4 separate regions of the Homo sapiens genome follow, and all the other regions are linked to region 1. Evidence: fine-mapped expression QTL. A gene starts in region 1. Each other region holds a variant in brackets. All regions are shown on one strand. Distances are from middle to middle.

Region 1 (2,618 bases):
ACAGCTAAAATTTGCTGGGAACATCAGCTACAGTTTTAGGTGGAGGCCCCAGAAAGTAAATAAACTCAGCTTAGGGTCTCTGGAACCAGTGACCCAGGTGTCCTCTAGAGTAAAGGAAAACAAACAAGCTGGCTTGGGACCTTGCTTAGGACAGCTGTTTCAGGAGCTGTGCTCCTTGTAGATAATTGGAAGCCGCTTCTGCAAGGAAACTAGCAGCAGAAGCCTGGTGCCCCTGTGGTACTGATGAAACCCCAGAAGCCTTGGTCTCCTACACTCTGAGCTTCTGAGTCAGGGTGAACTTCAATAGGAAAGTCACTTAGGGGACCTAAAGGGCAATAGGCTGCACACTGCCATTTCCCGAAAATAAATAGTAAATTGTCACTGTTCCAGATATAACTGCTAGATTGAAACGCACGATTTCTCCTCTCACTCGTAAAAATAAATAAATAAATAAATAAAATTTAAATAAACGTCTATCACCCAGGGAAAGCTACTCTTGACTCCTTCCACCTATCAAAATTGCCTAAGAAAGGTTGAGTCTGACCAAGGGGCGGCGCAGCTTGCAACTTTCGCCAACTCCGGGATGAGGCACCGCATCCTGGTACCAGAGGCTTGGACACCAAAATGACTTCTCTAGGGTGCAGCAAGGTGAGCCACCTGGCTTATCCTATCCCCATCAGCACGCGTCCCACACCTCTCAGTCCCATTCCGGAAATGGAGCTCTCTCAGGACTGGATACAGGCAGGAGACCTCCCTCCCCAAACAATGCATTCAGCCCGAGTTCACATTCAAGATTCAAAAAGAAAGGGGAAAAACATAGAAAGAACAATAACAATAGCAAACATGATTTTTTTTTCAGTTAAAAAATAAAATGAGTCTCTTACCATCTCGCCTGAGGTTGGCGTTGCGCAAAGCTTTGATGGATGCGCTCTGCGGGGTTGCAGAAGTGTCCCGACAGCTGCAAAAGTTTGCGCAGATTAGAGTGTAGACAAAGATGAGCCGGTGCATTTGGGATCAGCGACTAGAGACAGCGTCGCTCCAAGAAAAAGCCGGGTTCTGCTCCCGGGACCGACGCCGCGCCGCCCTGCGCTCTCGCCGCCTGCGCTCGCCCTGCGCTGGCCCGGGTCGCTGTGCTAATCGCCGAGCTCTCCCCAAACTTCCTGCATGCTGAACTTTCCGAGCGCGTGTGGGTGCCGCACTTCCTTGTGGTGCTGAGCTGATAAATGGTGACGGGACAAACAACAGGTTGACGTTTGTTTGTTCGCCCCCTCCGGTGGCCGGCAGCTGCAGCACAGGCTGCAGGGGGCGGGCAGCGCCGAATCTAGCGGGGCAGGCGAGCGGAGCAGCAGCGTTCTCCAGCCCCGGCCGCGGCCCCTGAGAGGCGCGCACTCGGGCTCAGAGCGGCGGCGCGAGCACCTCAGCTCCCCAGTTTCCCAGGCCGGGCCTAAACCTGCTCTGCCACTGAGCATGCCCAGTTTAATCGCCGGCCGGGACTCTTCCCACCGCCCTGGGCTTTACCCTCCTGGTTGGACCTGTAAGGGCTCAGGAAACAAACTCGCCAGGAGGAAGTGGGAGAGGGTAGAATCCCAGCACTTCTTCAGAGGTGACTGGCACATCCACCCACAAGCCACAGCTCTCCGCCTTGATGGTGGTGGGATGTGGGGACAGGGACTGGAGTTGGGAGTGTTTATTTTACAATAACCAAAATGAGACTCTACTTAGTTAAAATTTCACTGTTTATAGTGAAAAAATACAATCACAAAGGAGCTTAATTCCGAGCTTTTCTTTGAGCTCCCATCAGTGTGACCTTTGGGTGAGTCAAGGGTACCTTTTCAGGGAATAAAATAAAAATAAAAGTATATCACCCAGAGAAAGCTACTCTTGAGTCCCTCCATCTATCAAAAATGCCCGAGAAAAGGTCGAGACTGATGGAGGGATGGCGTAGCTTTCACTTTTCGCGAACTCCAGGATGAGTCAGGGCATCCTGGTACCAGAGAGTATTGGACACCAAAATGCCTTTTCTAGGGTGCAGCAAGATGAACCACCTATCACACAGGGCTGTAGACGTGATGGGCCATGTGGTGCAGTGTACAATAAGGGCAAGAAGTCTTCACGAGCGTTTTTATATGCACTAGCTCCAGCCCTTCCACAGGAAAGGGCAACAGGACAGAGTGGGGTTGAGCAGGAACAGACTGAGCAAGGGGAAGAAGTTGCAGAACACTGTGCTCACTTGCCTTCACAGTCCATAGGAAGAGGCATGGGTCGTTGAGGCTTTTGGGATTCTCCCTACTCTGCGTCTGGAAGCTCAGCAGTTGAAAGGGGCTGCCTCTGGTTTACATCGTGTGTCTGTCTGCCCATGGGAGGGGACTGTATTTGGAAAAGGAATGAGTCCAGACTCGCTGCTCACTGGCTTTGTCCCCTTGAGCAAATCATCTGATCTTTCGAAACTCAGTTTATTTATTTGCAAGAGTAGCAATTGTTAATTTGTATGGTTGTGGTGAGAATGATGTGAAAAAATGTTTAGCATATTGTTTTGTTTGTAGCTGAATCCAAATCCAAATTTATATGATTTCTCAATTTTCCGCTGATGAGATCTAGAAGAGAAAATTTTCAGTCTT
Region 2 (2,618 bases), 58 kb before region 1:
GTGAGTAAATTCTATTATGTTCACACAATGACGAAACCACCTAATATTCTCACCAAGAAAATGCCTATATTTCTGACAATGTATCCCCATTGTTGAGTGATTCATGATTGTACACAGAAACTTCTCTGAAGAAGATTCTAAGTCTCTGAATACTACCTATCACCAGAAACAGGTGGTAATATTCACAACTACCTTGTGAAACAGCTGTTTGTTACCTCAAACACTGATACCATATGCAAATTTACATATATCTATGGGAACGCTACATAGGAGAACTCTTATTTTTCACCAATAAGGACTTTGTTCTTGTTGCTCACCATGTATACCAGCATCATAAAAGATGAAATGAAATGCAAATAGGTAACATTTATGTGAAACGTATGTGCCACTGTGTTAAGCATTTTACAGACATTACTCATATAAGTAACCCCATTAATGGGGGATCCGTGATTATCATTTCACAGAATGAGGAGACAGATGAAGATCACCCAGACAGTAACTTGCCCAGGATCACACAGAGGTAACAGCTGGTATGGTTTTGACCTCAGGTCTCTGATTGGAATCTTCTGCTCCATTTGTAGCTGAGCAAGAAGGAGGGAAGAGCTAAAATTATGCCCCAAAATTCCAGTCTTTATTATAGTACACACAGTTCATTGTATCATGTTTTGTTAACAACTAGTGTTCTCAAATTACATGAACTAACCAAGTCGCAGGCACAAATAAAATGCCTGCTAGATAAAGTCACCTCACTTAGATGAAGGCATTAAAGTTGAGAGCAAACTATGGAGAAAAAAAAATAAACCATGTTTACATGGGTAAGAAAAAGCATTTGGTCAGTTATTTATCTAACTCACATAAGACTAAAAGAAAAAAGGATATTTGTATCTCCAATTATTTAAACCACCTGGTTGTATATGCTTTCATATTTTCCAAACGCTTATTCAGCTTTACGTGACATTTTTCTCGGTGTGGAGTTAGTAATATTCTGTATAGAGGTGATGGCTCATATAATTCAGCTGTGAAAGCCATAATTTCCAAAATGACAGTAGGAAAATAATGTCTCATGGAGATAAAGGAAACTGACAATAAAAATGGAAGAAGTACAAAAACTGCCATGTAAAATAATTCCTGGAAATTTTTGAAAGTTTTGCTGGAAAACTTTTTTTGAAAGTTTTGCTGGAAAAGACTACATACTTCTCCAAAAGAAAAGTAAACTTCTAAGTGTTATATATAAGTAGATATTAGTATTATCATGAATTATGAAGAAAAAACACTTGCATTTGAGACAGGTCTACAAAGAAATCCAGAATGGCATGTGTAGTTGTCCAAATAAGCATAGTGTTTACAAAAGAGTTACTTTAGAAGTATTGTTAAATCTTCATTTAAAAAAATTAAACCAGCACCACAGGGAGTTTAGGTAATACATATATTAGAAACTTATATTTCTGAACTGAGGAGCAGAGTAAATCATTGGTAGATGACTTAAAAGAATTCTAACCATAATTAATAAACTATGTAATCTCAAACCTCCACGCACGATAGTTGTAAACAAGATGA[G/A]GTAATTCCAATTTTCAGCACTCTGGCAGTATTTGTTTGCAAAATTCCTCATGAACCCACTAATTGATAGCATATGTTCACATTTTTTTAGCTCTGAGGAATGATAACAACCACAAAGAAGTATAGCCAAACTAATACCATAAGACATAGTTAATTTTTTCAGAGACAAGATTACTACCTGTGCATCAGCATAACTTCCAGTGATAGCAAAAACTTCTGTTTGTGTTTCTAAAAATAGGCATCATTGATATTAACACTGATCCTATGCCAAAACCATCTTGGGTGAGATGCTGGAACTGACGCACAAAGACAAAAAGTCCACATTCATTCAATTATTCAGAAAACACAGATTGCCCATTCTGTGCAAGGAACTTTGTTGTATACAGGAAGCTAAACAAAGACTATTAATTCCAGGCCTTTAGAAAACTTGAAGACTAGCAGTAGAGATGAAGCAAGTCCTCCTCATTAGAAATTACGGTGGCCAGAATTCCATATGATCCTCAGTGACCCACGCCTTTGTATGATGCCTTTTTTTTTTTTTTCAAGTCAGAATCTCACTCTGTTGCCCAGGTTGGAGTGCCGTGGCATGATCTCGGCTCATTGCAACCTCTGCTTCCCGAGTTCAAGCAATTTGCCCACCTTAGCCTCGCAAGTAGCTGGGACTACAGGTGTGTGCCACCACGCCTGGCTAATTTTTGTGTTTTTAGTAGAGATGGGGGTTTCACCATGTTGCCCAGGCTGGTCTTAAACTCCTGACCTCAAGTGATCCTTCTGCCTCAGGCTCCCAAAGTGCTGGGATTAGAGGCGTGAGCTACCACGCCCGGCCAATGCCCTCTTCTGAATGTAGGCAGGACTCTGAAGATGAGACCACTTCCATGATTAGAATATAAAATGTGACAAAGGTTAAAAAACATTGTGATGTAATTAAAGTCCCTAATCAATTGAGTTTGAGTTCATCAGAAGGGAGATTATCCCCAAAGAGACCGAATCACATGTGCCCTTTAAAAGAGGGTCGATCTATAGGTAATAAACAAGAAGCATCAAGGATACTCTCTTGTTAG
Region 3 (2,618 bases), 210 kb before region 1:
AAACTATACTACAAGGCTACAGTAACCAAAGCAGCATGGTACAGGTACCAAAACAGAGATATAGATCAATGGAACAGAACAGAGCCCTCAGAAATAATGCCGCATATCTACAACTATCTGATCTTTGACAAACCTGAGAAAAACAAGCAATGGTGAAAGGATTCCCTATTTAATAAATGGTGCTGGGAAAACTGGCTAGTTTGGGAATTTGTTCTCGATATAGTAAGTAAAGATTAGAGCAAATCCCAGTCCAGCAAGCTGAGAAGAGAAGGGGGTCATTGATTTAAAAGGGGTCATGAGAATGATATTCAAGAACTAGAGAGGATCAGCGTGTTTGCAGATAGAGAGAGGGGTGCCGCATACCAAGGGGCTGCACAGAAAGTTGCAAATTGCAAAATACTACTTTGTTAATAGCTTCCATGGTGTTTGGTCATACCATGGTGTTTGGTGTATGGTGTTGGTTCACCAACCTCCATGGTGTTTGGTAAGTGAACATTTAATTTACACCTAGAGAAATACTACAGTATTTCTACAATCTGTTGCCGAAGAGCTAGGTTCAGATTTAAATTTTGTGACTAGTTGTTTAGCATTAAAAAAAAAAACTCTGTGATTAATTATTTTGCAGTAACGCCTGCCACTTATGGAGCACAGATTTTATGCCGGTGACTATATGAAATACTTTCCATAAATTATCTCATTCATCATTTCTACAGTAGCTTTAAAAGATGAGGAAGCAGAAAGACAGGATGCAAGCCCTATTATTAAGGAAGTGCCACAGATACCTGAAACCGTGGCTGAGTCTCTGTACTCTTTCATCTTTGTTGAATAATTCCTCTTTTCTTTTATAAATAATCCTTTTTATAAAATAAACGAATCTTCTTGATTTGTGCTAAGTTCAGGTTTTCATAAATTCCTTAAATGCATTTCAAAGAGAACATCTGATTCAATTCACCAGTGGTCTGAAATTTATTAAAGATTGTACTTTTGATATTGCTAAGCTAATCTTAAAGATTGTTTATACCAAGCTAAAATGAATGACTTAGGAAATTATTCCTGCACCTTAGGAAAATTACAAGTTTGAAATGAAGAAATACTGACCTGATTCATATTTTCATTTTCTTGCAAGCACAGTGCCTGGTACAT[A/G]GTAAGCACTCTTTTTTGTTTGTTTGGTTTGTTTTTATTATTGTGGTTAAGAGAGGAAATACTGTTTCATGCTCAGAATTCAACAAACCATTTCACGCCTCTGTGCTGAAATTCACACTCCCAATAACTGCTAAATTTCTCTGTACTTGACTGACGTTATATAAATAGATTTTCTTCATGGTGGCCAAAAGCTAGTTACATTATTAAAACCAGTAATTAGAGAAAATGGGAATTACAAACAGTATGAAGATTAAGGCCATGTCACCAAAATCCCTTAGCTAAAATCATTATCTCTAAAAACTCAAATTATTCCATTACTAATTAAAACTCCTAAGATCTGACTTTAGGGAGAAAATACCATTTGAAGTCTAAAAGCCAAAGCCACAGTCAACACAGCTGGTACGGTTCCATGAAAAAGAGCACTCATGAAATGTTACTCAGCAAGTGATGGGATTATAATGTAAACGGGAACATTTTCTAAGAGAATCAGGAGTGTCAGTTGTAAAGTATTAAAAAAGCTGTCCATTCTTTTTAAAAATATGGGTATTTCCTAGTGAGGTGACTTTGCGTTGTGACACCTTTTCCCTCTACACATTCATCCTTATCCTTACACTGGACCAGTGTTCATTCATCAGAGCTGCCACCCATCATAATTATCATTTGGCACTATGGGCCATACTGAATATAAAATATTTAAGAGTCATGTTACTACTATACAGCTATGTAAATGAAAACAAGTAATTCAAAGTACCTTTTTCTTGACCTGACTTCTTTCTAAGGGGATTTCCAGAGTCATTTATGTGGTTAAACTAGAGAGATGGTTAATGTAAAGTCTGAAACAAAAGCATAGGACTCATACCCTTGCAAATTACTCTTCTCACAAAAGGGGAGATTCGTATATTCTTGACTTTGTACTTCCTCTTTCCACTCCCCACTCAACTAGCAACTAACTAAGGCAGCTGGCACATTTTGGATCTCCAAAGCAGGCTTGCTATCTGGGCCCATTAGGTGAACTTGTTGGAACTGAGTGCCAAGCACACAGGTCGTGAGTTTCAGACTGTGCTAAGTACAGGTTTTCATAAATTCCTAAGAATTTATGACAGAGCTGATAAAACTTTACAAAGAGAAAAAATACTGTTGCCAAACACCATGGTTAACATCAGTGAAAGAGACCTCCTGGGGGCAACTGCCTGACTCAGTCCATAGGACTTCATCCCTCCAAGTAAACAACTTGAAGTCTTCTCCTCCAGGCTGGGAGGATCATTTTGGAATAGGATAAATGGTAATTAAATGAGAGATCCTGCAATTTAATTTCTATTAGTTCATGCGTATGGGCATTAAAAATTCCTTTTTACTTTTGGTTATCATCAGTTAACAGGAACATCTTTTACTTTGACCAGTTATTACACTAGCAATATTCATCAGCAGTTTTATGAGTGAAAACACTAGGCTTTGCACAGCAAAATTTTAATCCC
Region 4 (2,618 bases), 420 kb after region 1:
AGTTTATGCTAAATGTCATGCTGTGAGAATGGGCTCTAGAATGAATCTTATGCCTGCACAGGTGGATATAAAGGCTCCCCTTTTCATATCACAGTCAAACTAGGAATTACACTAGCAATTTTCCTCCAGTTACTACAGTTTTGCTTGTGGCTTTTCCTTCTAACCTTTCTTCATTGGGCAATAATAGCTCAGCCACTCTCTTCAGAGGTCATCCAATAAGAAAAAATTGCTCTAGTATGTCATTAGAACAAGAGGACAAAATGTGAGCATTTTAATATTTCTCACAATATCTCTGCATTTTGGCATTTTGATAACAAGACACACAATGAGCAAATAGATCAAGAGTAGTAAGATATTAAATTGGAAGCAAATGCTATTACAGTTTATGTCTTTAAAATCTGAGTTGGAAGTTTTGTTTCCATCTATGAGGGAGTAGATGTATCAAAGAAATCCTTGGAGAAAGTAAGTGTAAAACCTGGATAGAAAACAGAAACAAAGCAAAGCAGCTATTTGGATCCCACAGAAAACAATCACGACAGCCAAGAATTGTGGGGACTAGACCTATAGAAGAGGAAATTGCATTGAGCTCAACCCCAAATTTGCCTCTATAATTTCTCCCTATTTATTTACAGTTTCTCAGTGATAATGATGGAGCCTGAAGAGAAAGTAATAGCCTTGAGTTGTGACCAATATCATTAGATAGAGAGAACAAAATCAGACTTCAGGAACTGGGGCAACCACGATTTAAGGGAAAAAGGTACGGGGGAGAGGACATTCAGAGGAGTAGCATCAAATATTACATGCAATTTTCCTTGGAGCATTTGCCAACTTGTAAAATGCACACGCTTGGCGTGAGGCACTGTGAAGTACAGGCAAAGGATTTGTCCAGTTCACAGTGCTGGGAAAGCAATTTTAGAGGCCCCATCCCACAAAAAAAGAAGGGCCTCAGGAAAAAAACCTCAGTTGAGGATCTTAAAGAGCTAATCTTAACAATAAGAGCAATATCATAAAAAATAAGGGTCACGTTTAAAAGTAAAGGCAGAGTAGAATTAGAGCAGGAATCACTAAACCTGAACTGCACAATAGGCTATATGAAGATGATCTGGCCAGACTCTAGCAGCTTTCTGGAATTACATTAAATTCTCTTTGGAAGAAGATAATATCACGTGTGTGTGTGTGTGTGTGTGTGTGTGTGTGTATATATATATATAAAGATTAGATATAGATATAGATATAGATAAAATAAAATTTAATTTATATATATAAATTGAATATATATATATAATTTAACTTATATATATAAATTG[A/AAT]ATATATATATATATATTTAATTTACAAAATCCAGCTTAAAAAATAATTGGTCATGGCAGGAAATAGGACAAAAAAGCTCCCAAAAAGAAGAAAAAATAAAGGAAAAGGAAAAGCAATAGTAAAACACCCAGAGGAGATTCTGTTGTCAGACATAAAACTTGAATATCAGTATAATTAATGCGTTTACAAAGTAGCGAAAAAGGTGAATGCAAAGTAGAGAAAAAGATGAACCACAATCTGTTAAATAAATGCAAATGTTAGAAGAAAAATATATATTAAGAAAGTAATATAAGTTTTAGTAGTGGTTTAGGTATCACAGAACCAAATGTTAGTGAGCTAAAAGACAGTTCAGCAAGAAATACCGAGGTTGAAACACAAAGAATACAGAAAATTTTAAAATACAGAAAATATCATGAGATGTCAAATACAACATGATGAAAAGTTCTGAACTTTGTGTGATTAGAACTCGAGAGGAAAGACAAAAGAGAAAAACAGTAATATTAAAAGAGAATGAAGGGCAATCATTTTGAGACAGCTTTAAAAAATTAAAAATAATTTTTAAAAACCCAGAAAGCCTCTCCTTCAAACAGCTTTCAAAATACCCCAATAGAAATAAAAGAACACACACACATATTATTGGTGTAGTTAAGAATTTGAAAACAAGGGAAAATTTGAAAAGCAACTGTATAAAACTCATGTTTCCTTCAAGAGTGAGATAGACTGCCAACGAACTTTCAGAAACAGTGGAAAGTAGAATATAAAAAAAATTGAAAATGCCAGGCTGGGCTTGATGGCTCATGCCTGTAATCCCAGCACTTCGGGAGGCTGAGGCGGGCGGCTGATGAGCTCAGGAGTTTGAGACCAGCCTGGCCATCATAGTGAAACCCCATCTCTACTAAAAATACAAAAAATTAACTGGGCGCAGTGGCTGGCGCCTGTAATCCCAGCTACTCGGCAGACTGAGGCAGGAGAATTGCTTGAACCTGGGAGGCGGAGGTTGCAGTGAGCCGAGATCACGCCACTGCACTCCAGCCCGGGGGACAGTGCGAGACTCCATCTCAAAAAACAACAACAAAAATGAAAATCGCAATAAAGGAACTCATTTTAGAATCTTATTCATGATGAAATTTTCTTCAAAAATAAAAAAAGGCACTTATAAATAAACAAAAATCAGAGAGATTAATCCAGGGAAGGACGCATTAAAAGACATGAAAAGATATTATTAAGCAGGTAAAAAGATAAGAATATTCACTGCTTAAACAATATGTTGTGGAGTTGAAAATATGTATAGAAATCATGTACACAAAAAT

Which allele goes with the higher level. Alleles are on the strand shown, and positions count from the first base shown. SD is a standard deviation of normalised expression in the study named. Not every link is listed here.
For the expression in fibroblasts of the gene that starts at base 1,228 in region 1, A is the high allele of the variant in region 2 and G is the other (small effect, 0.10 SD a copy in GTEx).
As copies of A replace AAT in region 4, the expression in skeletal muscle of the gene that starts at base 1,228 in region 1 goes down (small effect, 0.29 SD a copy in FUSION).

What was found.
Region 2: its variant is fine-mapped to the expression of PDGFD in fibroblasts (GTEx, PIP 0.95).
Region 3: its variant is fine-mapped to the expression of PDGFD in whole blood (TOPMed, PIP 0.98).
Region 4: its variant is fine-mapped to the expression of PDGFD in skeletal muscle (FUSION, PIP 0.95).

The regions. Positions count from the first base shown.
Region 1 is chr11:104,162,920-104,165,537 of GRCh38, forward strand. It overlaps PDGFD (platelet derived growth factor D), which reads right to left and starts at 1,228. Exons shown (of 7, transcript NM_025208.5): 1 at 885-1,228. The coding sequence starts at 1,008.
Region 2 is chr11:104,104,662-104,107,279 of GRCh38, forward strand. The region is part of intron 1 of PDGFD (platelet derived growth factor D); the gene reads right to left. Among named protein-coding and RNA genes, the nearest start is that of PDGFD, 58 kb to the right of the region's middle. The variant G/A (reference allele first, on the strand shown) is at 1,558.
Region 3 is chr11:103,957,461-103,960,078 of GRCh38, forward strand. All of the region lies in intron 3 of PDGFD (platelet derived growth factor D), which reads right to left. Among named protein-coding and RNA genes, the nearest start is that of PDGFDDN, 52 kb to the left of the region's middle. The variant A/G (reference allele first, on the strand shown) is at 1,144.
Region 4 is chr11:104,585,259-104,587,876 of GRCh38, forward strand. All of the region lies in intron 1 of LINC02552 (long intergenic non-protein coding RNA 2552), which reads right to left. Among named protein-coding and RNA genes, the nearest start is that of LINC02552, 23 kb to the right of the region's middle. The variant A/AAT (reference allele first, on the strand shown) is at 1,308.